4 linked regions of the Homo sapiens genome follow. The protein of the gene in region 1 interacts with the protein of each later gene in a pairwise test. Each region holds a gene or a part of one and is shown on either strand. Other genes may lie near its edges.

The links.
Region 2: the proteins of HSF2BP (region 1) and ARHGEF3 interact in binary tests that used the Homo sapiens proteins (3 or more experiments, as listed by UniProt).
Region 3: the proteins of HSF2BP (region 1) and ARHGAP45 interact in binary tests that used the Homo sapiens proteins (3 or more experiments, as listed by UniProt).
Region 4: the proteins of HSF2BP (region 1) and TSEN15 interact in binary tests that used the Homo sapiens proteins (3 or more experiments, as listed by UniProt).

What each region holds. Positions count from the first base shown.
Region 1 is NC_000021.9:43,648,905-43,656,732, reverse strand, and holds part of HSF2BP (heat shock factor 2-binding protein), read left to right. Parts: coding exon 1-146; intron 147-7,828. UniProt on the Homo sapiens protein: Meiotic recombination factor component of recombination bridges involved in meiotic double-strand break repair.
Region 2 is NC_000003.12:56,798,466-56,806,417, reverse strand, and holds the start of ARHGEF3 (rho guanine nucleotide exchange factor 3), read left to right. Parts: upstream 1-4,468; 5' UTR 4,469-4,619; coding exon 4,620-4,715; intron 4,716-7,952. UniProt on the Homo sapiens protein: Acts as a guanine nucleotide exchange factor (GEF) for RhoA and RhoB GTPases.
Region 3 is NC_000019.10:1,062,780-1,070,544, reverse strand, and holds the start of ARHGAP45 (rho GTPase-activating protein 45 isoform 1 precursor), read right to left. Parts: upstream 3,379-7,765; 5' UTR 3,140-3,378; coding exon 3,050-3,139; exon of another isoform or gene 2,973-3,049; coding exon of another isoform or gene 2,871-2,972; intron 2,132-2,870; coding exon 1,801-2,131; intron 1-1,800. Other genes in the region: phospholipid-transporting ATPase ABCA7, read right to left, coding at 5,120-5,275, 5,374-5,614, 6,292-6,384, 6,682-6,785, 6,867-7,001. UniProt on the Homo sapiens protein: Contains a GTPase activator for the Rho-type GTPases (RhoGAP) domain that would be able to negatively regulate the actin cytoskeleton as well as cell spreading.
Region 4 is NC_000001.11:184,054,539-184,062,366, forward strand, and holds part of TSEN15 (tRNA-splicing endonuclease subunit Sen15), read left to right. Parts: intron 1-189; coding exon 190-325; intron 326-3,622; exon of another isoform or gene 3,623-3,702; intron 3,703-7,828. UniProt on the Homo sapiens protein: Non-catalytic subunit of the tRNA-splicing endonuclease complex, a complex responsible for identification and cleavage of the splice sites in pre-tRNA. It cleaves pre-tRNA at the 5' and 3' splice sites to release the intron.

The sequences.
Region 1 (7,828 bases):
GGGAACTAAAGAGGAATTTGTTAAAGTCAGAAAGAAGGATCTGGAACGGCTGACAACTGAAGTGATGCAAATACGGGACTTCTTACCCAGAATACTAAATGGGGAGGTGCTGGAGAGCTTCCAGAAATTAAAGATTGTAGAAAAAAGTGAGTCTTCATTTTCAGCAGTCATTGGTGGTAACAGTAATTTGTTCTAGCAGATTTACCCTAGGTAAATAATTGTAAACGAATTTTAAGGTACTCTTACAGTCCTTGTGATGATATTTGGGAGAGTCTGATGACCTAAGAAAGGGAGGTTTCCTCAGTGTAGTGACTTGGACATATGTAAGTTGGTATAAGTTGGTTGCCAGTTTTCTGAGCATCTATTAACAGCTTCTCTTTCTCTCTCTCTTCATTGGCAGAAGAATTTTATACTTTTGATAACTGAAAAGCTCTATTCTGAAAATTAAGTACTTACTGTGTAAGTTAAGGATCTTGCCAAATGGAAACCTTGCATGGAGTTTACTTGTCAGTAGAGATAGCTGGAAGTGTGTTCACTTATCTTTAGGTGGATGGGTGAGCCAGTATCTAGAACTGATTGAAGTTTAGGCTTTCTGGTGTCCATTCAGACTTTTGAGATTTGAGCTGAGCTGTTATGTTGAATACCAGTTTAGGAGCCTATTGAAGTTCCTGGACATACTCTGAGATTGTCTCAGCACTTGCTTGATTGAGGCCAAATCATGATTAAATCAGCCTTTGACGGTAAAGGCCAATTTACTGCATGACATTTGGTTGTTATCCCTCCCTGTGTGCCCTCTAGAAAAGGTGCATCCAGGGGGCCCAGGTAGCTGTAGCACTTGTCCAGACAAGAAGATAGCTCACCCCGAGAATATGAGTTTCTGGCATGTGCAAACGTATCTGGTCAGTGGGCCAGCCACATCCAGTTAGAAGGGACAGTTCTCATCCACCGTACCTTGTCCTGTTTATATTCTCTCCGAAGTCCTTGGATCCAGTCTTCTCTGCCCTGTGGTGTGCTCTGGGAGGTAGATCCCTACAGATGGGGCTCTCCTGGTTCCCTTGCTGGCTGCCAGTGGGGCTCACCAATGGAAGGCATTGCTGGGTGGAGAGAGAGGTTGGGGTGTTTCTTCCTGCTCCCTCCCTGCTTTGCTGCTGTTTTGTGGCAGTAGCTGCATCCCTCCACAACAGAGACTCCTGTCTAGAGGCCTCTTCCGTAGTCCTAGCTCTTGCTGGACTGCCCCTGCTCCTGTGGCTGTAGGGCTGTTGCTAGTCCCTGGGTACCTCGCTGTCCCTTGGTGGTTCTGTTATCTCTGCTCTCCCCTCTGTAAGTGGTCCCTTCAGAAAAGTCTCAACATCTGGGTTGATTTCTCTTTCCCACTGGGACTCTGCCAGATACATGGCGTGTCATTGGTTGCCAGAATGCCAGGTCATTGACTTCTAATTTCTCTAGTTTTGATTTCATGCTCATCCAGCAACTTTCTGAGATTAGTCATTCCTTGTGCATTTATCTTCAGGAAAGGAAGGTAAATAGGCATACACCAGTAGCAGCGTATGGCAGCCTGCTGGTTGGTTATATTCTCACTGTAAATTAATAAACTGGCATTCTAAAAAATACATCAGGGTCTCATGAGTTAGTTAACATGAGTGTCTTTAGTGATCAGTCCCGCTGCCAAAATCAAACCGAGTGAGGGCCACAAACAAATCTGTGGTCACTTGATCACAGTCTGCCTTTGGGAGATCTTATCTCATAGTCCCGGCCTTTCCCAGGCTATAGAGTCACCTTTTTCCCCATAGTCTCTCTGGCAATTCCTGCTTATTCCCCTTTGCTGAAATTTATCCTTCTCTGCTTTGCAGCCTTCCAATAGGGCTTGAGACTCAGGCCTAGGCCCCGCTCATTGCCTCACCCCATGGCTTCTCCCTAGGCAGTCTCATGCACACTCACAGCTTCAGTTACCGTCTTGATGCCAGTGGCTGCTGGATTTACTCTCTAGCCCAGAACTCTCCAAGCTCACGGCCTTGTGCCTGACTCCGACTTGGCATTTCTTCCTGCTTGTTTCATGATTATTTCAAATTCTAAATGTCTGCCCTAGCCTAATCAGTCTAAGGTCGCCAGGAACAGACCCACAGTCTGACAGAGTGAGGTTTATGGCTCTTTGCAGTGAGGAAGACCATACCAGAACACCGAGAAACTGTGGGGCATGTCAACAAAAAAGAGGATAGAGTTGTTGTAGGACTTGGAGACAGAGTGGTATTAGGTGAAGCATAAATGAAGCAAAATAGAACTGTGTCTAAAGGGACCAATATTAAGTCTGACTGCGAAGCGGACCCAGGTCCCGTTTCCTTGAAAACTACAACGTTCAAATAGACGTGGAACATTGTTCTAGAAATCCCTTACTTGAAGCTCTGCAGTAGCTGGAAATAGGGTTCTTTTCTGTGTCACAGTGACTTAGATCCTGCAGGCAAGAGTGGGATCTTCTTACTTGTATAATTTCAAAGAACAAAATTTGTGCGAGTCTGGGATTTTACAGAATAAGGCTTCTCAGTGAATAAGAAGTTAGCAGTCACTCAAAGAAGAGGTCATTATGACACTTTACAGTTGCATTGTCTTTGAGAGATATTTTCTGTTAACTTGGCACCTGACTTTATCTGTGTTTGTTATTCCAGCCTGACAGAAGTCAGGACAGACTTTTGCTTTCTCGGTGCAAGCTGATTTTTACTTCCTGTTGTCATATCTGCCTCATGCTATCTGTTCCCTGCCCCTGTCTTACACTGGCCTGCCTCAGTCTCCCCAGAGCACCAACACCCAGACTAGAGACCCAGGAGTCTTCCTTGTTACCTGTCTCTCTTCCTCACTACTCCGCATGAAACCTGTCCGCTAGTAAGTCTTGTGAGTGTTACTTCATGGATGCATCCTGAATCATCAGCCTGCGTCTGTCTCCACTGCTGTGTTCTGCCTCCTCCTGGCGGTCTCCTCACTGCCACTCTCCAGTCCCTCAGACACACTGTAGCCTGAGTAGTTTGTGGCAGTTCAATCTGATGATGCCATTCACCTGCGTAAGTCTTCAGACGCTTCTCTTTGTTTTTAGGATAAAGAGCAAAAACCTAAAAACCCCACCCAGACTCATTATCATCCAAAAACCTAAGCAAAACCATACTACGGCTTAAAAGGCTTTATATTATTGGGCACAGCCCCGGCTCAGAGTCACTGCCTAATCTGACTACCTCGACATGATCAATCTTCCTTTGAAATGTTGTCATGGTACCCTATGCTTCCTTCAGACACATGGTTTTATTTCCATTTTACTTTATAAGCTGTTGGGAGTGCAGGGCCCCTGATTTTATCTGTCATTATCTCGGCCCCTGATTTTGTCTGTCATTATCTCCCTGGCTGATTATTCGGTCTTGAGGGAGCACCCTACTGTCTCTGCATGCCCTTCTTTCTTTCTCTCTCTCTCTTCCTTCCTTCTCCCTTCCCTTCCCTCCCCTCCCCTCCCCTTCCCTTCCCCTTCCCTTCCCTTCCCCTTCCCTTCCCTTCCCCTTCCCTTCCTTTCCCTTTTCTCTCTCTCTCTCTCTCTGTGTCTCTCTTTCTCTCTTTCTTCCGAGTCTCACTCTGTTGCCCAGGCTTGAGTGCAGTGGCATGATCTCAGCTCACTGCAACCCTGCAACCTCTGCCCCCTGGGTTCAAGCGATTCTCTTGCCTCAGTCTCCCGAGTAGCTGGGATTACAGGTGTGTGCCACCACGCCAGCTAATTTTTGTATTTTTAGTTAGAGACCAGGTTTCACCACGTTGGCCAGACTAGTCTTGAACTCCTGACCTCAGGTGATCTGCCCGCCTCGGCCTCCCAAAGCACTGGATTACAGTTATGAGCCACTGCGCCTGGCCTGATGCCCTTCTTTCTAGTTTGCAGTCCTATCTCATGAAACTCACATGTGCTCCAGGAAACGTGGTGTTAACAGAAAGGAAGGATCAGATTGGGCTGGGCTGGTTCCAGGAGGTTTACTGTGGCCTCCTAAGGCATCTTTTATCTAATTTTGGCTTTTGAGTTTTTACCATTTAGCCAACATCAAGAAAAATAAAAATTCTTCTTTTTATAAGGCCTAGATCTGATGGCCCTCCCCAAGCCTTCCCACGAGCCTGTCTTCCTAGACTAATCATGCTAGACATGACTCTAAGAATAGAGCTCTACAGAGGAAATTCACGATTGTACTGTGGCAGCAAGAGCCGTTTGACATACTGATTCTTCTACTCTCCCACTAGCCCTATTGTCCAGTATCCACTCCTTTTGCTTCTAGAGGTTAATGTGCACTTCCAGTTGTTTTTTTTTTTTTTTTTTTTGATGGTGTCTGGCTCTGTCTCCCAGGCTGGAGTGCAGTGGTGTGATCTCAGCTCACTGCAACCTCTGCCTCCCGGGTTCAAGCTATTCTCCTGCCTCAGCCTCCAGAGTAGCTGGGAATACAGGCGCCTGCCATCACGCCTGGCTAATTTTTGTATTTTTAGTAGAGGCAGGATTTCACCATATTGGCCACGCTGGTCTCGATCTCCTGACCTCAAGTGATCTGCCCGCCTTGGCCTCCCAAAGTGCTGGAATTACAGGCATGAGTCACCATGTGCTTCCAATCTTAAGCAGTGACTAAAGGCAACCTGAAGGTAGGAATGAATACAGGCAGGGAAGGAGTAGACCTGATTTGAGAAGTTTCTTTTAGAGTGTGGATATAGTTTTGTTTGGATGGGCTTGGGCTATACAGTAACTTGTAAGCCAGCTAGAGGATTGAGGTGACACATCAAGTAGCGAATGGGGCTTGATTTTGACTCTAGCCCAGCATCTCCCTTTGGGAGGACTGGGCAAGGTAAATGGCAGTTTGCAATAATACTGACGAAGGTGTTGCCTGAGAGTCTTAGGGAGTTGATGGGTACTGGGGAGAGGCATGATTTGTTAGGAGGAGAAGGGGAGATATTCTAGGCCAGGGCGGTGGCATGTGAAAGTCACACATGGGATTGAGCAGGACCGATTGCAGGTTCATCAGCTAGTGTTTGATTGCTGTATGGAATAAGGATTGGGGGTATAGCAGAATTAGGGATGGAAAATGAACAGTTTATGGAAGACAATCATAGATTGTTTTTAATTTGAGATGAGAGTCAACTGGAAATTACCACATGGAAATAACCATCAAAATAGTGATCAAAATGACGTTTTTTAGGAGAATGGTTTTTATAGGTGAGTGTAGGATAGGTTTGAAGAATTGGGTGGAAGATGAATTAGAGCATTCATCAAGGAAGGTCGTGAGTTCCATTAGTGTGTGGGACTGTGGCTGTATGGATGGAATGGAAGGGACGTTTGATTAGTCTTGGTGGTTAAGTCAGGACAAAGTGTCATGATTTATGATCGGCAGTGAGAGTATGGAGATACAGGATCATCTATATACTGCCTGCTGATTAGTGTCTACAAAATGTGGACAGTAATGCTTACCTCATAGGCTATGGCAAAGCTTAAAATGAGATAAGCTCTGTAAGGTGTGTGCCACTGTGACTGGCTCATAGGAGTCCCTGGTAAATAACACCTCCTCAGATGGTGTGGGAAACTATGTGAACCCTTGGGGAAATGAAGAGAGACTCCAATTCACAGCCCAGCAGCTTAGCTTCTGGCTCGGCCATTGTCACTTCATGAGTTTGGGAAAAGTTTAGGGAGGTTCGAGTAAGACTCAGCTATGTTTGCAAGAGATGTAAACCGGGCCGGGTGCGGTGGCTCACGCCTGTAATCCCAACACTTTGGGAAGCCAAGGCTGGCAGATCACTTGAGGTCAGGAGTTCGAGACCAGACTGGCCGACAAGGTGAAACCCCATCTCTACTAAAAATACAAAAATTAGCCGGGTGTGATGGCATGTACCTGTAATCCTGGCTACTCAGGAGGCTGAGACAGGAGAATCGCTTGAACCCAGGAAGCAGAGGTTGCAGTGAGCTCAGATCATGCCACTGCACTCCAAACTGGGTGACAAAGTGAGACTCCATCTCAAAAAAAAAAAAAAAAAAAAAAAGCAAGCCTGAAAACACTATAGGAACCTCCATTTGACTTGTTAAGGTAGTGGCACTTAAGTACTTAGTAAGATATCACCCTCTGTTTTCTTTCATCCCTTCTTGTGCTTTATTCATCCAACAGTGGTGAATAAATCAGTGGGTATCAAAAATTTGTTTAAAACTAGGAAAATCCTATTTTTTATAAATAAAATTTTATGGGCCGGGCACGGTGGCTCATGCCTGTAATCCCAGCACTTTGGGAGGCCGAAGTGGGCGGATCACGAGGTCAGGAGATCGAGACCATCCTGGCTAACATGGCGAAACCCTGTATCTACTAAAAATACAAAAATTAGCCGGGCATGGTGGCGGGCGCCTGTAGTCCCAGCTACTCGGGAGGCTGAGGCAGGAGAATGGTGTGAACCCCAGAGGCGGAGCTTGCAGTGAGCCGAGATCGCACCACTGCACTCCAGCCCGGGCGACAGAGCGAGACTCTGTCTCAAAAAAAAAATTATATAATAGTATATGATGGTTCTAGATGTAAAATAGATGAAAACTGTATCTTCTGGGTATTTGTTTTTAAAATTAAGTTTTAGAACATTGACTTATAAAATCAGTAAGTACAATGAAGGTGGTGCGATGAAAACACAAATTTAGTATCAGGGATTTTGGAAGGTACTTGGATGATCACTTTCAGCATCCAGTTTGTTTTTAGTTTTGCTTGTGAAGTCGCAAGAAGACACAATCCCACAGATAAGGAGTTGCAGATGGTGGTTTTGAAGTAGTTCACCTAGCAACATGAAGACACTTTCTAATTAAACTGATATGAAGCTTGAAATAAGAGGAGTCAGATATTTTTGTTTTACAATTAAATCGCTAAGATCGAGCAATTCTTTGCTTTCCTTGATTGGCAATTGTTCATTTTGGAGAGAAATAATAAAAAAGCCATTCAGTCTGTTTAAATCTTCATTGTCTTACAGAAAACACTTTTCATGCATTATGCTGCATTTGACAATTTGGCACCTTAGTGGCAGTCAGATATTCACTGACAGTCTCAGAGGAGCTGGAATTATTTTTGTATGTTGACAGCACACCTAAAATGTTGGCCTCATTTCTGAAATAATTAAAATGTTAAATAATTTTAACCTTTTAAAATTTGTTTATATGTTTTTTGATGTTAATGTGAACCAGCCTTGTTTTGGTCATTGAAAATATCAGCAGTGAATGCGAACTAGTGTAGCCATGATACGCTGGTGAGATATTTGACCAACAGATTTTTCTTTCTTTTTTTTTGAGATGGAGTCTCCCTCTGTCACCCAGGCTGGAGTACAGTGGCATCATCTTGACTCACTGCAACCCCAGCCTTCCTGGTTCATGCCATTCTCCTGCCTCAGTCTCCCGAATAGCTGGGACTACAGGTGCGCGCCATCATGCCCGGCTCATTTTTGTATTTAAAAATTTTTTTTCAAAAAAATAAAAAAAACCCCAAACTGAAAAACAAACAAAAGGCCAGGCGCGGTCAGCACACCTGTAATCCCAACTACTTGGGAGGCTGAGGCAGGAGAGTCGCTTGAGCCCAGGAGGCAGAAGTGACAATGAGTTGAGATCATGCCACTGCACTCCAGCCTGGGCAACAGAGGGAAACTCCATCTCAAAAAAATTTTTTTAATTAAATAAATGAATGATGAGCAAATGAGGCAAACAAAATGTTAATAGTAGGTAAGTCTGGGTAAAGAGAGATAACAGGAATTTTTTTTGGCATTAGTTTTTGTGAATTTGAAATTACTTCCAAATAAAAATTGTAAATAACATTGTAAAATG
Region 2 (7,952 bases), on another chromosome or scaffold:
GAGCAGTGTTGTTCCTAAGCCCGTAAACACACACACAGGCAGAATGGGGAGCTCTGGGCTCCTGGGGCCACTTAGCTTGGCGGCATTGCAGGACTGGACCAGCTTCCCTCAACTGTGACACTAACCTTAGGGATATGCTTGGAGGCCCTCCTGCAGGGGTGCCTGTTTTCTGACAGTCTTTGTTCACGGACACCCCCAGATAGTGTCTCAGGCAGATTGCCTAAAACCCCAATCTGTCAATGGTGGAGCAGTGCATTACATATGGGGAAGGTGCTGAAGTCAGGGACCAAGGTGGAAATTGCATGAGGTCAGAAATACTCCTGAAATAGCTAATCCTGACCTTAACCTATATACTGATGGAAGTTAAAAAAAAATACTCCTGAAAAATTTGTTAAATGCCTCAAGGACCATATACATGGCTTGTATGCACCCCAAATTGCTGGCTTGAGTTTATAGGCTTTGTTGTACCAAAAATATCTGTATTTAAACACCAGAATCCTATTCTGGATGGTGAGACATTCGTGCTATAAGAAGCTTGGAAGAATCAGACCACCCAAGAGAATTCCAGATTCCCATCTTTCCTTTTGTAGCTTATGCTTTTTTATAGCACTATTTAAATTGTTACAGGCCATTAGTAATCTCTCTGCCTCTGTCTGTCTCTCTTTGCCTAGCATGTATAGTGGAAAAGAGGTATGTTTGTCATATATATGTTGTGTAGCCCTGTGTATTTATTGATTTTTATGGCTCCAGTATATTTTAAGGAAAGCAAAGAAATGTTTTAAGAGAAGATGGATACGGCAGCCTTCTCATCAATCAATATGACTGTTCATTGCTCTGCAATAGTTGTGCTTCAACCTAAGTTGCACTTTAACATTTCTTCGGAGGCCAGGCACAGTGGCTTATGCTTGTAATCCTAGCGCTTTGGGAGGCCGAGGTGGGTGGATCACTTGAGCTCAGGAATTCAAGACCAGCCTGAGCAACATGGTGAAACCTCATCTCTACAAAAAATATAAAAATTAGCTGGGCGTGGTGACGTGTGCCTGTAGTCCCAGCTACTTGAGGGGCTGAGGCGGGAGGATTGCTTGAGACCAGGAGGTTGAGGCTGCAGTGAGCCAAGATTGTGCCACTGCACTCCAGCCTGGGCAACAAAGTGAGACCTGTCTCAAAAAAATAAAATAAACATATTTCTTAGGGTTTGTTTACTGTTACACTGGATTTATGGTATGTCAGACTCCCTGCTTGGCCCTAAGGATACTGCAATGAGCAACCCAGTCCCAGGGCTATCAGACGTCGCCAGGGTGACTATTTTCTTCACCAAGTGCTGTAAGTATATTTTCCAACTTGAGAACACGGCCCAGCAAGCTCTTCTGGGAGTCAAAGCCAGTGGCTTTGATGGCAAATGTGTTCTAGTTGAGATAGTGGACTGTGAGGGCCAGAAGAGCAGGCAGAGAAAGAGGAATAAGAAGTGGCTCGGGTACTTGGGCACAGGTTCTTGGTGGCCAGACAAGCCCTGAGTGACGCATGTCACTGCCTCTGGCCCTGCCTTTGGCTGCATAGTTAATCAGGGGCTACTTGGAGATGAGGTTACTCTCACACCCCCACCAAGCTTGGCTAAGCTTTTGGAGCACTTGTGTGAGCTCCCCATCAGCACAGCTCAGGCTAAAAGGATAAAATTGTGTTCAGGAATACAAATAGGAAAAATCAGTGGTTCTGAGGTGCTCTTTCCTGCCCCATACCTCTTCTGAGACAGTTTTCTTCCTATTGCTTCAGGTTATCTATCGAGGGAAAAAAACTCAGGTGCTCTCTTCAATTTCAGTTGGAACCTCCACCCATTCAGGAGCTTCATTTACATGTGTGGTAATAACAGGCTGGTTACACAGGGCCCAATTCTTTCTGCCTCCAAAGGCAGTTTGTCTGCACTAGCTGGGTAGGAAAGTAAGTGGATTTAGTGTGAGGGTGTGGATTTGATACCTGGGATGAAGAGCTATGTATTATGAGGTGTCCTGCCTGAGAAGTAGGAACTGCTGGGTTCTGACCTCAGCTAGAAGCAAAGAGCACGCAAACAGGGACTGGATATCACCATTCCCACTATCCCCTGCATCCCCAGGAAGTAAAAACAAAAGATAGTGTCTCCATAGATCACCACCTGATGTAGTCATGACTTTCCACATGAGGAGGAAAAAGATTCAACAGTACAGTCTACAAAATAACTTTTGAGAGATGATCATTTTAGGGCTGGGCATGGTGGCTTACACCTGTAATCCCAGCACTTTGGGTGGTTGAGGCAGGTGGATTGCTTGAGCTCAGGGGTTGGAGACCAGCCTGGGCAAACATGGCAAAACCCTGTCTCTACAAAAATACAAAAATTAGCTGGGCACACTGGTCCAGGCCTGTAGTCCCAGCTACTTGGGAGGCTGAGGTGGAAAGATCACTTGAGCCCAGGAGGAGAAGGTTGCAGTGAGCCAAGATCATGCCACTACACTCCAGCCTGGGCAACAAAGCAAGACCCTATCTCAAAAAAAAAAAAAAGAAAGAAAATATGATAATTATAATATTTTAAAAAACTATAATTTCCCAAGAAGTGCCATGAATGAAGGTATTTTTCTTTTTTTCTCTTGAGACAGGGTCTCACTCTGTCACCAGGCTAGAGTGCAGTGGTGCAACCATAGCTCACCACAGCCTTGAACTCTTGGGCTCAGGAATCCTCCCACCTCAACCTCGGGATTAGCTGAGACTACAGGCATGCACTACCATACCTGGCTAATTTTTAAATTTTTTTGTAGAGGCAGGGTCTTGCTATGTTGCTTAGGCTGGTCTTGAACTGTTGGCCTCAAGCCACACTGCTGCCTTGGCCTTCCAAAGTGTTGGGATTACAGGTGTGAGCCACTCTACCTAGCCATCTTTTCTTTTTTCTTTTCTTTTCTTTTCTTTTTCCTTTCTTCCTTCCTCTATTTCTTTCTTTTTTTCTTTTCTTTTTTATTTTTTCTCAGGGTCTCTGTCACCCAGGCTGGAGTGCAGTGGTATGATCTTGGCTCACTGCAACTTCTGCCTCCCAGGCTCAAGTGATCCTCCCACCTCAGCCTCTGGAGTAGTTGGGATTACAGGTGTGCACCACCATCCCTGGCTAATTTTTTGTATTTTTTTTGTAGACACAGGGTTTCACTGCTGCCCAGGCTGTATTTTTCTTATAAAAAATTTTAAAACATGAGCTATAAGCTTAAGTCCCTTTTGTTCACTATCTTTAATTCTTTAAACCCAGGTGCCTCCCTTCAGCCACAGGGGAACTGGTAAAAGCTTGCTGTGGATTCTTGTAGACAGTGTTCAATGCTATTTACCCACAAATATGTCTTTATAGAAAATATATGATATTCTTTGGTAAACTTGTATTTTTTTTTAACACAAATGGTATTGTATTATGCTTAGTCTGCAATTATTTTTAAACTGAGTCTAATACATTGGAGATCTTTCCATGCCACACCCATAGACCCATCTCCTTTTTCACTGCTGCTAAGCGGTATTACACAGTGAAGAAAGTTTATTTAAGCACTCCCTATTGATGGATATATTACCATTGTTTCCAGTTATTTTTTATTTTTTACTGCCCCAGACAGGGCTGCTGCAAACAACCTTAAGATCAATCGCCTTCTTGGGCATTTATAATGTCATTGTTTCTCCAAAAAGGATCCAGAAAGGTGTGGTAGTGCCAGGTCATCCATGCACAGCTTTATACTTGAAGGACACTCTGTCAGATTGCCCTCGAGTGTCAGGCAGCCTCTGAATATGCTAGTCAAATTTAAAAGTTGGTGCAAAGTGGGAAAGGTCTCGAGGGAATTTTCCGGGGGTGGTGGAAATGTTTCGTATACCGACTGTGGAGGTGGTTATACGGGTGTTTACATTTGTCAGAACTCAACAAACGGTACTCTTAAAATGGGTGCATTTTGCCATTTGTAGATTATATTCCACTGACATTCATTTAAAAAACCAAACAAAAACAAAACAAAACAAAAAAAACGTGCAGTGGCCTGGGAACAGGGTAAGAGAGAACACCACCCCTTTCTAATGTGGGCTTTTAAAACGCTCGCTTTTCCCCCCAGGCTCCTTCCTGCCTCCAGGTGTCACTACAGCCTCCTTTCTCCCCGTTGCCCGGTTTCGCCCCAGCCTCCTTTCTACCAGCAGCCTTTCACCCGGAGAGTGCCAAAGAGCCCGAAAGGAGCTATCATGGGGTCTGCCTGCCCCGCAATCGCGGCCCACGCTCTGCGGGGGCGCCCGGAGTCGAATACCAGCGGGGAGAGAGAGGTCCCTCTCCACCCGCGGGACCGCCCCACGCCCCTCGCAGCCCCAGGAGGTGTCCGCGCTGCGGCACGTGGGCCCTCCCGGCAGCGTGGGGCGGTGCCGAGCCGGCGGCCCGCCCCCTCCCCACCCATCAAGGCGTGGCTGGCACGGTCCCGCCCACTCGGCTCCGGAGCCCAGTCGAGTCCTGCCCGGCTAGAAGCCGGCTGTCGGTCTCCGTGTCGCCGCCGCCGCCCGGCATCGTGGAGCTGGGGCCCCCTTTTGCCTGGGAGTTTTGTAGTCGCCTAGGGTCAGCGGTGACATCCCAAAGGGCAGGCCCGGCAGCCGCCATGGTGGCCAAGGATTACCCCTTCTACCTCACGGTCAAGAGAGCGAACTGCAGCCTGGAGCTACCCCCGGCCAGCGGTCCGGCCAAGGACGCTGAGGTAGGGCCGCGCCCTGCACCTGGACCTCTATGGGTCATCTGCCTGTCTCGTCTGCCTCCATCTCCCATTCTCGGCGCCCGTCCAGTGTCACTGTCTCTGTTTCCATCTCTCACTCTCCGTGTGTGCCACTTTCTCTCTCTACATCTCTCCCACAGTCTTCTTTGTGTCTCCCCGTCGCCATCTCTCACCCTGTCTCCTTTTCTCTCGCTTTTTCTCTGTGGACCAAGCACTAGCTGCCTCCTCTCTCCCTGTCCCTCTACCTGCCGGTCTGGGAGCAACTGCCTCCTTGCCTTTGCAGGGCTCTCAGACTGTCCATCTTCTGTCTGGACTCTCAGAGGGACTTTCTCCTACTGTCAGCAAGCCCCAGTGTCAGGGAAGTGTCAGCAAGCCCCAGTGTCGCTACCCTTTAAGCGAGTTTTTTTTGCCTGGGTTGTGAGAGCAGAGGGACGTACCAGCCCTCTCACCTGTCAGACTTGGCCTTGCAGCCCTTTGGCAGCAAAAACAGGACACAGCGCCTCTGCCTATCACCTGTGGCCAGTGAGGGTCATTCAGCCGGGGGGCTGGGGCTAAATGAGTAAATTGGAGTGTCTCCCACATGGATCTTGAAAATGAATTAAAGTCCTTAGGGTCAATGGAAAGCTGCCTTGGAACATTGGAAACATTTCTCTTTCTGGGAACTTTCCTGTGCCTTGCGGGCGATGTGAAGGAGTGCTCCCAGGTTATGTTTAGTCTGCCTTTTCCTCTTGCGTGTTATTTCTCTGGCACATAGCTCACTGGCCTTAAAGGTTGGGTTCAGCTGGAGGAGAAAGCATCCCTCTCTTTGAGGGTCTTAGGGAATACAGTCGCTTTCGCTAGATTACAGCTTTGCTGTGGTCAAGCTGCGGTGGAACCCACAGGACCCAGCTAGTCATTGCCGCTCATGCGTGTATCTGGGAGCTTTCCACTCTCCCACACCTCACTCTGCGAACATCAAACATCACCACCACCACTGGGGAAAGGCTGAAGGCAGGTGTGCATCCGGCCTTGTCACAGCATTCTTGAGGTTCCACCCACTCGCCTTCCTTGGGTCTGCTCAGCTGTATGCACTTGGCTCACTGAATCATGTATATTCGGGAGCACACCATCAAAGATTCATTTCCTCTAGCAAGAGCTGCTCCAGGCTGACAGGACTCCAAGCAGTCTCTGGTTGTATTCAGCTTTCTATACGCTGAGCACAAACTAACTTCTCCCTCACTCAAACCCAACCCTACACTCCAGCTCAGTCGAATATTATCACAAAGAGTTTTTGTTGCCAGCAGCTGTGAAAGTGTGATGGCCCTAGTGGCATTTGCATAGAATTCAGGTTGGTCAGGCCTGGAATGGATATAATATTTTTTCAGTGGGAACTTCCTAATTTAATCAACATAGGAGCAGCGCAATTGGTGCCCACTCAAACTCCACTTGTAAGGAAGAAAGGCATAACCAATAAATTAATAAATTGAAGTGGGCCAAAGAAAAGAATAGTGAGGATAGCTGAGGACTCTAACCAGTCCCTTCCTACTATTACTTAGTCCTGTGTTTTTGAGTAGTTTAGCTAAAGGCTTAGGTAAAACTTGCCTGCTTAATTTCATTTTATTCTTATACATAGAATATAGATATGTCTATATATCACAAATATGAAACTTATCACATGTCAAATATTAATTTTCTTCATTGGTAGCTGGATCTAGACTATAAAATATGACTTATTTTCCTCGTATGGGGATATCCTGATGTGAGAAATAAGGAAGGGGTTGGAATAGTTTTGGAAATAGTTGGTAAATATTTTTCAGATATCACTATTGGGGTTTTTGTTTTTTAGTGTTTGATTTAAACACTAAATCAAGTATGCTTTATACACTTTGAGGCAGAGATATCTTTTAGCTTCATCGATGAGCATATCACTTCCTGATAATGGAAATTGGCAAAATTGGAAAAAGAAACCTAAGTGAGTTTAGTGGGTAGTTTTCTGGTTTCCTTATCAGCGCAAAAGGCAGCCAACCCTTGTAGGCCTAGCTTCTCCATAAGCAGTTAACTAAAATATATTTTCCACCAGTAGGTGTCGTCAGTATTCATAAATTAAAAAATAGCATTCGCTTGTCAGCCTTTTGAAAAACATGATTATATAATTGTTTATAAGCTAGGCATTGACTGTTAATTCCTCTGAAAGTATTTTTTTAAGAGTGATTGTTTTCTTTGTGGAAAGAATGTGGTTATAATAAAAAGAAAAATAGATCTATCCAGAGGCCTTTCTAGGAAAACAGGACTTGTTGACCTTCAAAGGCCGTTGCAACAGAGCACCTGTGCCCTTTAAACATTTAATGGCCGTGTGTAATGGCTGTTCCTTCCGAATTTGCCTTGGGTAGGACAGTGCACACAGCATGGCACTGGGAAGTGCCTTCTAGCATTGACTCCTATCCTTGCAGCAAGTGTACTGGGGAAAATCACTTAGGAAAAGGCTCCTGGGGAACAGGCAAGTGGCATTGATGTGCATTTGATACCGTACACTGAGTAAAAAAATATGCAAAAATAAGCATTCTCTTAAAAGCAAATAAAATTTCTACTCAAGATTTAAGTGATTTGTAATTTTTTATTTGTGGTAGTTTCCAGTGAAAGCAAAAAATGATATTTTTAAAATGTATTTTTATTTTCTTTAAAAGATCTATTTTAAGCTTTTGAAAATATTCTACAGGGATTATAATATTGCATGTCTGTTAGTATAATACTGCCTCTTAATCTGCTATTTCTTATGACATGGGGGTTTGAATTGGTTGGCAAATGTTTAATTTTAATATCCATAATCAGTGAGGTCCTGCTGGCTGTAATCATTAATTGTGAAATCTAAGGAGCTTAGTTCATGGCTCTAGAATTTCACAGAAAAATGTGATATGATACGAGCATTAAGTTTATTTCTTCTGATCTTTGATGCAGCTTTGTTCAGTTTATCTGTTTTTGTATTTATTGGTCATCTACTTCCCATGCCAAAAGGGACTGGTCTACATAGCTGCGCTAAACACCTGATCAAATCACTAAAAGAAAATGTGTTACCTCTAATGAATTATCCTGATTGTAAGTTAAAAATCAATATTTCCCCGTAGTGAGGTTTGCTTTTTAAAAAGAAGGCTTAAAAAAAAAAAAAAAAAAAAACGAAGTAAAGAAAAGGAAGCAAGCTCAGGTAAGGTGCACACATTGGCTAAGGAAGCTAGAGCCTTGTGAGAA
Region 3 (7,765 bases), on another chromosome or scaffold:
TGAAACCCCATCTCTACTAAAAAAAAAAAAAAAAGAAAGAAAAAAAATTAGCCGGGCACGGTGGCGCGCCCCTGCAATCCCAGCCACTCGGGAGGCTGAGGCAGAAGAACCACTTGAACCCAGGAGGTGGAGGTTGCAGTGAGCTGAGATCTCGCCCCTGCACTCCAGCCTGGGTGACAGAGTGAGACTCTGTCTCAAAAAAAAAAAAAAAAAAAGAAAAGAAAAGAAAAAGAAAGAAAAAAAGAAAAGCCCGGGCACGGTGGCTCATGCCTGCTGTAATCCCAGCACTTTGGGAGGCTGAGGCATGCGGATCACGAGGTTAGGGGTTTGAGACCAACCTGGCCAATATGGTGAAACCCCATCTCTACTAAAAATACAAAAATTAGCCAGGTGTGGTGGCACGCACCTGTAGTCCTAGCTACTCGGGAGCCTGAGGCAGAAGAATCACTTGAACCCGAGAGAGGAAGGTTGCAATGAGCCGAGATCGCGCCACTGCACTCCAGCCTGGGCGACAGAGTGAGACTCCATCTCACCATCTCAAATAAAATAAATAAAATAAAATAAATCAGGTGCAGTGGCTCATGCCTGTAGTCTCAGGTACTCGGGAGGCAGAGGTAGGAGGATGGCTTGAGCCCAGGAGTTCAAGGTAACAGTGAGCCTCAATCACACCACTGGACTCCAGCCTGGGCAACAGAGCAAGACCCTGTATCAAAAAAAAAAAAAAAAAAGTGCCCCACCCTGGCTGGCCCAGTTCAGACCTCCTGCAGGAGCCTGGGAGCTGAGCCCCGCCCAGGCCAGGCCTCCAAGGAAGCGCCAGGATCGGAAAGGAACCGAGATTAGGGTTTCCCCAGGAAAGCAGCCTAGCCCCCGCCCCTGGGACCAGATAACCCGGGGGCTCCCACTCCTCCCAGTGGGGACCGGGCCTTCCCCAACTAGTGCCCTGAAGGTGCAGAGGCCACTCCACCACTTGAGGTCCAGTCCTGGCTCTGCCCTGCCCTGGCTGGGTGAGCCAGGGGTCAGGGCCTCACTAGAGACTTAGTTTCGTCATCTGTAAAATGGGCGGCTGCTGGGAGCAGATCAGAGCGCCTGGCATGACCCTGGCACTGTGGTTTCTGGGAGGAGCCGGGGGCTGAAGGCAGCACATGAGGTGCCCGCCTGGGCTGCCAGGGACAAACAGGAAGCAGATGAAAATAACTCGGCAGGAAGCAGGGCTGTCAGCGGCCGCGTGGAGGAGAAAACGGAACTGCCGGCCTGCAGGCCGCTGGGTCCCAGCACCTCCGCCGCCTGATGACCCCATCCTGCCCCTCGCCATGCCTCCTGAATCTCTCTCCACCCAGACCTCAGCCAACCCCCAGTTTGCTTCATTCCAAGACACAGATCTGCCCCCATCTGTCCTGTGCTCTAACACCTTCTATGGCTCCCCATTGCCCTTCTGCCTGGCGTTGTCATGCCTTCATCCTACACCAGCGGCACCCCACACCTTGGCCCCCAAATGCATTCTCTGTTTCCGTGTTTCTGAGCCTGTGCATGGGACATTTCCTCTGCCTTTCCCTCCTAATTGCCATCAGATCCTTTAAAAAAAATAAAGTGGGCACCCTCTTGAGCCAGTGTACGCTCAGGGACTCCCCCACCAAACTCCTACACATCCCTCAGAGCCTTAGCTGTCATGGCCTCTTCCACACAGCCCTCCCTGCCATCTGAGCCTCCCTCCCTTCTGAGCCTCCCCAAGTCCCTCCCTCCATCCTCCCTTGGGTCTGGCTCTGTCTTCCACCCAGGCCTCGGTGTCCCCGTGGCTCTCACCGTCACGCAACACACACTCCTTAAGTTTCTCAAGGCCCTCAGCGAAGCGGGCCACGTCCGCCAGCAGATGGGAGATGTCCTCGACGACGTCCGGGCCGGCACCCTCGGTGGGCAGCTCGCCCGGGCTGGCGGCTGTCAGTGGGCTCCGGTGGCTCCGGCCCAGTGTCCAGGAGGCAGCACCCGACAGGGGGAAGCCAGCCGCGCTGGCGTGGCGGCTCAGGCTGGTGGGCCGCTTGAGGGTCCCTGTGGCCTTGACGCCGGAGGACCCAGCGGGCGGCTCCAGGCTTGGTCCGGGGAACACCGCGTCAGCCCCATCCTTCCTGGGCAGCTCCTTGGGCAGGTCCGAGGGGAGCTCGTTAAAGGGATTTTCCGGCCTGGACACGGCCTCAGTTTCCCCAGAAATGAAGTGGGGCTGTGGAGGGCCACCATCACCCTGACCCCACAGGGGTCAAAGGCCAGAGGTCACAGGGCCGAGATTTGGTAGTGTACCCCCCCACCTGTTACCCAACATCCTCTTCCCTAGAGCTTTCACAAACAACGGTCCTTGCCCAAACCACAGCCGGGGCGGGGCCTGCGGGGAGGCGCGGGAGGGGGGTCCCCACTTCCTGGTGGGGGTGGGGAGGGTCCTCAGCCCTTCAAGCCCCCCTCAGGCTCCTACAACGCAGGTGCTTTAAGTGAACACACTTCTGACTCTGTCTGTCCCCTAAAGGTCCATGGAACCCCAGAGCCTATGGGCAGCCCCAGGCCTTGTAGACATCCCGGACCCCCAAGCTCTGTAGACCCCCCCCCCAGCTTTGTAGACACCCCAGGCCTGGGGACACTCCCCAACCTCTGAACCTGGTGGATCCCATTAGAGGATCTGCTGCCCGGTCAACCTTCAGCCCAATGGCCAGGCCACAGCCCTCCCATCTCAACGGCCCCTAGAGCCCCCAGATTGCCTAAGCCCCCAACCTGCAGCGGCCCAAACACAACATCGTCCCAACCCGGCACCCTCCCTTCCTGCTCCCTGGGCCCCGCGGCCAGCCCTGGATGGAGTGGAGGGAGGCGGCCACCACTCCCAGGGTCCCTACCGTGAGCTGAATGCCGGGGTCCCGGCCTCTCTGCTGTGGCCCCTGCCGTCCCGCCCGGTAGGGGCTGTAGCTGGCACGAGCCCCCAGCCGCCGCCCCAGCATGAGCCCCGAGCACAGGGCGGGTCCCTGTCCCCCTGCGGCCCGGCGTCAGCTCCGGGTCTCACCCGGGCTCCACTCACCCCCGAGGGCTGCGGGCTGGGGCTTCCCGCGCGGTTCTTTTTCGAGATGGAAGGGGTTTTCATGAGCTCTCGTTTCTTCCTGGAGAACATGATGGGGCCCCGGCCGGGAGCCCGAGGGGGCGGGCTGGGGGTCTCAGCGCTGCAGCTCCCGGCGCTGGCCGCTTCGGGACCACATTGTCGCCGGCCACCCCCTCCCCAGCTGTCAGGCCCACGTGACAGGCCCGGCCGTCACTGGCGGGCCCTCCCCCCAACAGGAAAAGGCTTCGGGGAGGCGGCGACGCGGCCTCGCCCCCGACCCTTCCCGGCCTCAGCCTGCGGCTCTGCGGAGTGGGCGCGAAGGTGAGGTCGCAGGCCCCGCCCCCAGCCCCGGGCCGCGCCCCCCGCTTCCGCCTTCGGGAGCTCGGAGCCGCGCCGCTCGCGGGGTGGGACCGGGAGCCCCTGCCTGACGCTGGCGGGCACGGGGCGGCCGACTGCAGGGCGCTGACTCTCACTCCCGGACGCGAGTGGGCGTGCACAGACACGTGCACGATGACACGCAGAGACCCGGACCTCCACACGCGCTCAGACGCCACCAAGCCCCTGGAGCCTCGCCCTCAGACCCCAGACACACGCACAGGCCGAAGCTGCGCCCCTGCAGCCCCCTTTTCCCTGAAGGCAAGCCCGCTCCACCGCCTCTCCTGCAGACCCTAGGGTGTGGCCGGGCCCCAGCAGGGCCGGGCAGAGTAGGGTCCCCCCCATCACCCGCCCTGCAGCCCCGTGAAGTGGGTCAGGTCGAGGACAGGTGGGGAAACTGAGGCCCAGAACCGAAACCCTGGGGGCAAAGACGTCCAGGAAGTCAGAACAATCCAGGTTACCGGGCCCTGTCCGTCTGGGTCCCCACGTCCGTCTGGGTCCCCACGTCCACCTGGTCCTGGGCTGCCTGCACAGGGGTCCCCAAAGTGTGGTGTGGACCCCACCATCGGCAGAATATGCTGAGGACACCTGGTTACCTCTCAGCAGCCCTGTGGGCCATATCATGTTGCCCCAGACCTGCCCTTAGCTAAGGTCCCCAGCCCCGCCTCCCAAGCTGCATTCCAGTGACTCTGGACCACCGGACGTGCTGGGCAGCAGGACGCAGGCACCCGTTGCTGATAACAGCCTGAGGCGGCATTGGCCAAGAGCTGGGGCATCTGCAGGCATACAGATCCCAGCCTCCTACCTTCCCCCAACCCCCACCCCGCAGTGTGAACTCTCTCCCCCCTCCCCAAGTCTCCCTGCTGTCCCCTTCCAGAACCCCACCCCCAATCCCAAAACCCCAACCTCTTTCCTTTCCCAAACCCCATTCCCACCTACCTCGGGTGGGAGGGGCAGATCTCTGGGGCACAGGACATGAAGGCCACAGCCCCTTGCTCCAAGTCTGGCTCTCCAGGCCCAGGTCCAAGTGCAAACCCAGCCCAGCAGACCCTTGAGAACTCTTTGCCCCCGACTCATGGCGCTGAGGGCTGGGGTCAGAGGGTGAGGGTCAGCTGGATGTCGGATGGGCTTCTGGCCCGGCCCTGGCCTGTGCTCCGGGACACCGGGCTCCTGTAAGCTTCCCAGGACATTCCTGAGTCCTGACCTCATCCCCACTTTATGGCCAGGCACTTACAGGTACCGCCCTTAGGCGCCAGCCCCACATAGGCACGCAGGGACGTGGGGACAGGGACGGTGTGACCAGGCCCTTATGAGGCCCGCACTCACATCCCCAACTCCTGGGCTGGCCACAGAGGCATTTACAGCTGGGATCCGGTCAGCTGTAGGCACGCTCACACCTGTGTCCTATGAATCGCCACTTGGCCCGTATGTGCACACTCAGCTTGCAAGGGGCCAGCCATATCCAGACGCATGTGCAGGCAGCTGTGTGGACATGTGTGCAGCCTGGCTCAAGGACACACATGCACACGGTTTCACCACCACGGCTTCTCTCCAGCCTTCTCTTTATTTTCTCCAGGGCACCAGCCCCTCTGCCAGCCTGAGTCCAGGGCTCCTAGGCACTCTACCTTGCCCTTGCCATTCCCAGGGCCTCCCCGCGGCCCCGCAGGGGAGGGAGGCTCAGAGCACAGTCTCGGCAGTGCTAGGGTCATCGAGGAACTGGCTGACGCGTTTGGGGTGCTGCAGGCCTGGCGCGGGGTCCACTCCCACTCCTGCCTCCTTCTGCTCTTCGGTGTCCTCGTCCTTCCCCTGGTCCTTGGAGAAGTACAAGAATACCTAGCGGTGGGCAGCCCAGAGGGGACAAGAGGGACGGTCAGCCCACGGGCCTGGCCCCCAGCCTGCCTCCCCCAGCCCGACCCCGGCGCCGTGATCACCTCCTCCAGCATCGTCTGGCTCACGGAAAAGTCCTCCACGCCGTGCTCTGCGCCGTGCACCGCCAGCTCTCCAAAGACGCGCGCCAGGGCGCAGCGCCCTCCCGGCGGCAGCTGGAAGCGCAGGCGGCCTCCATGTGCCTCGCGCAGCTCCGCCCCAGGGAACTCGGCCGCCACGAAGGCCGCTGCCGGCTGGGACCTTGCGGCGGGCACCCGCAGGGTCAGTGTGTGACCCGCCGCGAATCTGCAGTGAGTGGGGCCAGGGCTACCGGATCGGGCCTTTCCCAGGTCCCACCTCAGCTCACCCTCCAGCCCCTAATACTCTCTGGCCCCGCCCCATACTTGTACTACCCTAGCGATCAAGTGGTCCTCCCGTCTCAGTCCCCCGCCACCCCCCGCCCGCGTAGCTGAGACCACAGGCACACACCACCATGTCCAGCTAATTTTTAAATTTTTTATAGAGATGGGGTCTCCCTAGGTTGCCCAGGTTGCTCTCGAAGCTATCACCCCACTTGACTCCTTTTTCGGACACTCCTCTTTCGCCCTTGCACTCTACCCCCGCCCACACAATAAATACCCCCGCCCCACTTTCCTATGGCCCCGCCCACTAACCAGGCCCTCCCCTAACTCCACCCATCAATCCACCCTCACCTCTCCAGGCTGCACCTACTCCAACGCACACCTGATTGTGTCTTCTAAATCCACCCAGAGCCCCCGGCTCACGCCTCCTGGTCCTGCGCCCCCAGCACACCCCAGCCTGTCTCGCCCCCTCAGTCACCCCTGCAGGACAATCTAAAGCCTTGGCCATCTCTCCAGTTGGAGCCAAACTTTCCTCACCCGGCTCTACGTCTGGCCTCTCCCCTGAGCCTACCTACGTGCCCACCCTCACCCCACACCTGCCTGGAGGCCGCGCCGGCTCACCTGCCCTTGAGATGTTGCGGGCTGCCCAGGCAGCGGAACCGCCCATTCACCATGATGGCCAGGCGCGAGCAGAGCGCTTCACACTCCTCCATGCTGTCGGGACCCGGCACCACGAGCTCCGTGAGGCCGGGGCCACCTGTGCCTGGCGCCACACTGCCTGCTTCCCCCGGCCTGGGCCACCCTTCTGGTGTGGACATCTCCCCACTCTTCCCCAGACCGTTCTGATCCCGGCGCCGCGTCCCACCTCTGTGTGTCCTTACACCCCGGGGCCTGGCGCCCTCGCCCCACTAGGGCCAGGACCCCCCATCCCCTGTGGCCTTGTGCTTTGGGGCTCTCTCTCCAGGCCTGGATCACCTTAACCACAGCCCAGGGCATCAGAGCCCGGCCCACCTATGGGAGGTGAGCATCACTGAACGGCCCTCCCGCACCACGGCCAAAAGGCTGTTCCAAAGGAAGCGCCGCGCGCTGGGGTCCATGCCTGTGGTCGGCTCGTCCTGGGGAGCACGGAAGATCCCATAAGCAAGGCCCCGCCTCCGTCGCAGGCCCCACCCCACCCAGGCACCGCTCCCACGCACCAGAAACACCACGGCTGGGTCCCCAACCAGCGCCAGGGCCGTCGCCAGCTTGCGTTTGTTCCCTCCGCTGTAGGTGCCTGCAGGCCGGTCTGCGTACCATGAGAGTCCCAGACGCGCCAGGCCCGAGCCAGCGGTCTGTGGGGTGGGGCCAGAGTAGGCATGGGGACTCATATTGATGAGTATGGGGCAGGGCCACAGTGTGGCGGGGCCAGCATTGAGTGTGGAGCAGGGGCATAATGGGCATGGGGCAGGGCAAATGTGAGAATGGGACATAGTGTGGTGGGGGCAGCATGAGTATGGGGCGGGGCCATGGTGTGGGTGGAGCCAGCATGAGTATGGGGCGGGGCCATGGTGTGGGTGGAGCTGGGATGGGTGTGGGGCAGGGCCATAGTGTGGGTGGAGCCAGCATGAGTATGGGGCGGGGCCATGGTGTGGGTGGAGACAGCATGAGTATGGGGCGGGGCCACACTGGTGGAGCCAGCATGAGTATGGGGCGGGGCCATGGTGTGGGTGGAGCCAGCATGAGTATGGGGCGGGGCCACACTGGTGGAGCCAGCATGAGTATGCGGCGGGGCCATGGTGTGGGTAGAGCCAGCATGAGTATGGGGCAGGGCCATGGTGTGGGTGGAGACAGCATGAGTATGGGGTGGGGCCATGGTGTGGGTGGAGCCAGCATGAGTATGGGGCGGGGCCATGGTGTGGGTGGAGCCAGCATGAGTATGGGGCGGGGCCATGGTGTGGGTGGAGCCAGCATGAGTATGGGGCGGGGCCATGGTGTGGGTGGAGCCAGCATGAGTATGGGGTGGGGCCTTGGTATGGGTGGAGCTGGGATGGGTATGGAGCAGGGCCATGGTGTGGGTGGAGCCAACATGGGTATGAGGCAGGGCCAGAAAGGGCAT
Region 4 (7,828 bases), on another chromosome or scaffold:
ATTTGCTGTTAATTTTGCAATTTATTTATTTACATTGGGAATTACTGAGTAACAGAAGCTACTAGAAAAGCAAAGACAGGAGGTAGTGTTACGAGTGATATTTGCTCAGCTGAGTATTAGGTAGAAGTTTGGAGTTTTTATTTTTTGTATTTAATAAACATTATTGTCCATTCAATGATGCTCTTTCAGGCAAAAGCTGGCATGAAGTAAACTGTGTAGGATTACCAGAACTCCAGCTCATCTGCCTTGTTGGTACTGAGATAGAAGGGGAGGGGTTACAGACTGTGGTGCCTACCCCCATCACTGCTTCCCTCAGCCATAACAGGTGAGCAGGTGATTTTGGTCTAAGTTCCTTTCCCGAGTAAAGCAGTAGGAAACATTAAACATAGTGATGTAATACTTTTAATGAAATTTGGGATACAGGGTTCATAGCTTTACTCTTGGCTATTTGAGGAATAAGTTAAATATGAGTGTTGTATTCGGCCATTCTTGCATTGCTATAAAGAAATACCTGAGACTGAGTAATTTCTTAAAAAAAAAAGAAGAGGTTTAAGTGGCTCATAGTTCTGAAGGCTTTACAGTAAGCATGGTGCTGGCATCTACTCGGCTTCTAGGGAGGCCTCAGGAAGCTTATAATCATGGAGGAAGTTCGTGAAGCAAGAGCAGGCACATCATATGGCAAAAGCAGGAGTGAGAGAGAGTGTTGAGGGGGAGGTTCCACACACTTTTAAATGACCAGATCTCACGAGAACTCATTGTCCTGAAGACAGCACTCAGCCATGAAGGATTTACCCCTATAACCCAAACATCTCCCACCAGGCCCCACCTCCAACATTGGGGATTACAGTTCAACATGGGATTTGGGCAGGAACAAATATACAAAGTATATCAAGCATTCAACAAGTATTTATTTAGCACTTACTCTATGGTCAGTACTTTTTCAGAGACAGTATGTATGGTAGAAATATTTATATTCTTGGTAAGGAAGCAAGACCATTACATATGAAATAACAGCTGTTATAAGATGTACCATGTAATACAAATTATACTTTATATAGCAGTTGGTGAAAAGCATGATTAACATGCAAGCTGAAATCAAATTTTCATGTAGCTTTTTTTAAAAGCTTTAAAAAAGAGACTTTTTTTAGGACCTTTTTTTAAAAAGCTTAGGTACACAGCATTGGATTAAACATGTCTTTGTTTCATGACATACTCTCATTATTAGTTCATGCTTGGTTTTTATTTATTTACTTAGTTATTTTTAATAATGTAATAAGTATCTCTGTACCCATCACCCAAAGCAAAACTAGATTCTTGATAATAACTAACATCTAATCTTATAAGTCCCTTCCTTAACGTGCTTTCACTGACCTGAGGTAACTCATTCTGAATTCCATGTACATTGGGAATTTTTAAATTTTAGATGTTTTTAACTTTAATTAAAAAATCTTATCTTTTAAGGCTGACCTTATACACTTAATATTATATTACTAAAATTCATCCATTCTTGTGCATTTTTTGAGCTGCCACATAACATTCCATTGTGTGATTATACCACCATTTTTACATCCACTCCCTCGATGATGGAGTGTTGCTAATGTTTAACTTTAGGAGATAATTTCAAACTATTTTCAAAGTGGTTGCCTCAATTTACTTTTCACCTGCAGTGTAAATAAGATCCTTTGGAGCTGTATTGTCTCTCACATTTAGTATTGTCAGACTTTTAAATTTTTGCCAATGGAATGGATTATTCTTATTTTGGTCTTAATTTACATTTCCCTTATTACTCATAATACTGAATATTTCTTTATATATGTATTATTTATAAGAAATATCTGTTCATATCTTTTGCCTGTTGGGTTGTTTTTAGTTTTCTCATTGACTTGTATGAATTCTTTATATATTCTTGACCTAATAGTTTTTTTATTGTGTTTTCCAGTTTTTAAGTCTGTCTTTCACTGTCTTAAGATGTCTTTCAATGAGTAACAGTTCTTAATTTGAATATAATCATATTTATCCATCTTTTATAATCAACGTCTTTGTGTCTAGTTTAAGAAATATTTTCTATCTAACGGTCTAAAAAATACTTATATTTTCACTAAGAGTTCTATTGTTCTTGTTTTTAATGGTGTGAGAGGCGGTTAGGGATACCATTGTCATGTGGATAACCACTTTTTCTACCTCCATTTACTGAATAGTCCCTCCTTTCCTCACTATCTGACATATCACTTCTGCTACTTTCCAAAGTTCCAAACATGCATTAATTTGTTTCTGGGTTCTCTATTATATTCCATTAGCCAGTTTATCTGTCCTTTTGCCAATACCATATCTCTTAATCGCTTGCTTGGTAAGAAGTCTTGGTATCTGGTTAGCAAGCCTCCCTTATGCATTTCTTCTTTAGAAGCTGTAGCAGGCAGCTTCTAAGATGGCTTCTCCTAATTCTGGTATTCACTCCCTTATGTAACTCTCTTCCCTTGAGTGTGACCTGGACTCAGTGACTTCTTTCTAATGAATAAAATTTGGCAAAAATGATAGGAATGTAACTTCTAAGATTAGGTTACAAAAGACTGTGGCTTCTATCTTGGGCACTCTCTCTTGCTTACTATAAAGGAAGCCAGCTGCCACGTGAGCTGTCCTACAGAAAGTCTGAAAATAGAAAAGAGATGACAATTATTGATGGAGCAAGATTCTTGAGAGATGAGGAAGGATGGATTCAAGAGGATAGTGGAGGAGAGTAATATTGAGCATGTAAAGGGGTGCTGTAAACCTCTGAGAGTGGGGTATGGGAAGAATGAACAAATGAAAACACAGCTCTATTTGGGTGGCATATAAGTAGGGAAAAGAGCAGAGCCTCTTAAATTCCAGCATGAATACCGTTGATGAATACTTAACATTTTTTCTAGCTGACTATGACTGAATACATAGCAGTCTAGTAGAAAGAGCCCCAGACTATAAAGTCTTAAGACCTGGGTTCTAGTCTTGGGACTGACACTTAACATTTTGTTTGATGTTTAGCAACACACCTAATTTCTCTGGGTTTCAGTTTCCTCGTCTTATTTTGTTGTTGAGGGATTTAGATTACCAGTACATGCAAGATCCCTTCTAAATTAAAGCTGCTGTAACTGGTTATTTTCATTGTGCATATTTCATAAAGCCATATTAAACTAAATTTGCAGATTTCTATGAAGTATTTTTTGTATTTATTATTCATAATGAGAATTGTTTTTTAATATGTCAGTCTATTCATATGCTTCTTTGAGAAGCTCCTTACTGTTTTCTCTGTGTTTGAGAATTACAAATAGTTGTTAGCATTGACATCAGATTTAATCGCTAGTACTTTCCGGTTTTTACTAGCATGATTTCCAAGCCATCCTATATCCAAGAGTCTTAATTCATTCCTCAGAACTCATTACTTCTGTCTTTTAATTACTGTAACAAATATTGTCCTAGCTAGTATTAATGTTATATTATTTGTTTGGACAAGGAGCTACTATTTGAAATTAACCTGCATTTATTCCTAAAAAATAAAATTAATGAAAGCAATAGCCTATTTTAATCAAAATCATTTCATAAGTCTAGAAGTACAAATTTGTTTCCATTGTTAATTTCTAGTATTTTCCAGGTGGTAATTAATGCTTTTCTAGCTTGAATGGCTAAAGCTTGTTTTCTTCTTCAAGTAGAATTAGTTGGAATGATAACTTGGTAAGCCATTTTGATGCTGTTGCATTTAATAACTGAGAGAGCTTAAATCTTTATGTCTTGTTTTTATATAAATATTCTTAACTATATTATACAGTAGAATACTAATATAGAATGTAGCACAAATGAGGCCTGATACATACTAGATTTATATGCCTTTTAGTGCATAACATTTTCTCAACTCAAACTATGCAAATAACTTTTTAACAAATGGAAATGTGTGGGTGTATATGTGTGTATGTGTGATTTCATTATTCAGTCTTTAACAGGGCAGTCTTTTAGGTAGTAGGCATACTTTTATCTATTTTTACTTTTAGTGTATTTTATAATATAAAATGTTATATATCTAACAGTAATGCTGCAATTCCAGCCTTTCATAGTTAATGTGGGAATTTTTCTGTGTTAGTAACACAGAGAAGAAAATGATTGATGTTGAGTCTCTGATAACCTTGTATAGCAAAGAAATTCATTGGGACATGTCCTAAAAGTATTTGGTGGGAAGATGTGAGGGCAACTCACCATGAAAGAAAAAATACTTTTTATTTAAGAGGGAAAACAGCTTTTACTTATTCAGTGATAAAACATCTACATAAATTAACGATTCTGTTTTCACTTTTAAATATTATTATTTGTCAGATAATATTGCTTGGGCTTTTTGGTCTTAACAATTATTTATTGAGTGACTCTTATGTGTCAGGCAATGATCTAGGTGCTGGGGATACCATGATAACAAATACTTTCATGACATCCTCATGAAAGTAGTATTCTAGCACTGAATATTCGCTTAGAAAATACTTTTTTTTTTTTTTTTGGTAATTGTTGGATGGAATTTTAAAAAACAGAATTGCCCTTTGTTCAGATATTTAATTGAATGTGTGATTTGGGACTGCCTTCACTTATTTTGTAGCTAGATAATTGAATAACAAGTATTATGGAGTACTGATAAGTAGTTTAACAGGGATATGTACAAAATTATGTCAAAACCCAGAGGAAGGACAGGAAAAGTCTCTTTAGCCAGTAAGAGACCATGGTTTAGTAGGGTAACTGCAAGTAATTAAGCATGATTGCCTACCTAGCATGGTGTCTAGTCAGAGTAGGTGTCTAGTAATATTCCTTAAGGCAGCAAATGAATGAATGAATGAATGAATAAAATTTCAGAGAAAAGAGGGAAAGGATGGAAAATTAGATGGGAAAGTTTATTTAGATTATGAAGGCCATCATTGTTTTTACTTTTTTGCTATTACTAATGGTATTCTAATGAATAGCCTTGTGAGTACCTCCTTGTACTCATGTATGAGAGTTTTCCTAAGAATAGCTGGGACATGTATACCTTTATACCTTCTTTTTTTTTGAGATGGATTCTGGCTCTGTCACTCAGGCTGGAGTGCAGTGGCACAATCTCGGCACACTGCAGTCTCCGCCTCCCGGGTTCAAGTGATTCTCCTGCTTCAGCGTTCTAAGTAGCTGGGATTACAGGCATGCACTACCATGCCCAACTAATTTTTTGTGTTTTAGTAGAGACAGGTTTTTGCCTTATTGGCTAGGCTGGTCTCGAACTCCTGACCTCAAGTTATCTGCCCGCCTTGGCCTCCCAAAATTCTGGCATTACAGGTGTGAGCCACTAGGCCTGGCCTATCCCTTCATCTCTACTGGTTATTGCTAAATTGTTTTCAAAAGGATTATTACCAGTTTACACTTGCACTTGCAATGTGTAAGTTTTCACAGACTGGGAGAAGATTTATAACATGTGCATAACTGACAGGTTAATTTAGAATTAGCTTCTGTGATTTCAGAAAAAAAATCCCAATGGGAAACATGGGCAAAGAATATGAACAGGCAACTCACAGAAGAGGAACTCAAATGCTCAAATATGTTTGTAAATGAAGGAATTACAAATATAAAATGTGTTTGTGTTGTCTTAACTTTGAAGAAGACTTGCAGACAGTTTGTTTTTATTTTTTGACAGAAATAAGGTACTGTTTAATGGGGAACTTTTGAACAGAACTACAGCTAGCACTTAGAGAGTCTCTGAACAGTTTAGGAAAAGGAGCTCCCTCTCGACATGCAAAGGAAAATGTCTCTTCACTAAGGTTCAAGGCTTGGCGAACAATGAAGGCCAGATTTTAGATCCACTTGTGCCAGGCACCGTTGTGCAAAGCACAATCTGCATATCTGTACATGATGCCCTGCCCCTGAAGCATGTCTGTGGAGTCTTAGGTTTCCACAAAGAACACTATGAAAATTACTGCTAAATGGGTGGTGTCATTGAAGGGCTTTAAGCAAGGAAGTGAGACTATTGTTTATTCTATGTGGTTTTAAGAATACTTTGCATTTGCAGAGAATGTTACAGAATTTCAAAGTATTTCAAAATATTTTTACAAGTAGACTTTCATTAAATCAGCACCAAAATCCCTAGTGGTATACGGGGTGTTTGTTTTATCCTAACTTTACATACAAAAAGCTGAGGTTAAAAGTATATTTTCATTTGTACCCCCACTTTTTCCAAAAGATAATAAAAGATTAAGTGAGCTGTACCACGGTCTCAGTTAGCCTCACAGCTATTAGAGTTTCTCTTGCTTTATTGGTTTTTAAAAAGATTTTATTGTAAATGAAACTAGATACGGAAAACCACACAATACCAATGTATAAATTAATGAGTTATAAGGCAAACGTCTAGAACTCTTGTAATTATAACTAAGTCAAGAAATAGAACTTTTCTAGGCACCCCACAAACTTTTCAATGTGCCCCATCCCAATCATAATCTTTCTTCCCCCCCAAAATAGCCATTATTCTTTCTTTTATAGTAATAATGGGCTTTGGCCCATATATTGTTCCCAGGACCTCTTAGTGCTAATTTGTCTTTTGACTCTCACTCAAGAAAGAATGTTGGAATATCACTGGTGAGACTGATAATATTATCAGGAATATTAGTTTTATATTTAAAAATACCCTGCCAACTTTACTACTCTATTGTTAGAAACAAATTACTTGCCACATACTATACAACCAACCTCAGCATACCAGTTGTAAATCACCATTTTAGACTGTGCGTCTTAGCTGCTTGAATATAGTGCTTTAAAAAATGCTTTGTAGTCCTCAAAAAACCTTAAATAACATTTTTATTAGTAGGAGAGTTGGGTAGCATACACAGCTGTAGAGCCAGAGGAGTTGGCAGTTTGCTGGAGCTACAATTTCTTATTATTTACAAAGAGCATATAGCACATAAGGCCTGATAACTGTCTCTTTTATTGAAGGAGACAAATTTTATAATCTGTTGTTTGTAAAACTGAACCAAACTCTGTCATTTACATAGTTAACTACAACTTAGTTATAAAGTATTTCCCTAGTGATGACAAATAGTCCCACTGTTTCAGTCACCACTTGACTGTTATGTGGCAGAGTGGCATGTATATTTATATGGTTTATTATTTATTTTATGGTGTATATGTATTTTCTGCCTCCTTAAAAAGTAATTGTTCTAAGGAGTGTTTAATGTTATATCTGTGTGCTATTCTAAGAATGCCTGAACAGTTTTTAGTGTCTGCTTCCCACTTACTTTCCCAGGCTTTAGACCTGGTGGTTTTGTTTACATACTTTCTGGCAAGAGTGTCGACAGATTCCATTACAGGGTGAATGTGTATTTGAATGACTGTGAGTGAATGCATTACTTTGAGCACAAGTACGTTTTGTGTTTAGCATTTTCTGTAAAGCAGTTATATATGATATGTGATCACAGTTAAAACACTTTGTCATATTTTTCAAGTTTCAGAAGGTCTTGTGTGTAATAGTCCTTATGAAAATATTGATTTAATGTTATTTCCTGATCTGTAATGGGGGAATAAAATTGATAAAGTGCCCATTTCTGATTATCTAGTGGGAAAATTTTGCTGATGGAGTATGAAGTAATTAATTGCTAGTGTTTCTTGTTTCTCTCATCTAAAAATACTTCCTAAAGCTAATGTAAAATAATTTTTAGTTTGCATTATAATGCCATATTAAGTTGTATATTTGCATGGTATCCATATGGACAGTACTCTAGATTGTTTCTTTGCTAAATTGAATCTAAGGAATACATGAAGCAACTTTGGTAAATGACTGTAGAGGTACAGTTTGCTCAGACAAAGCAAT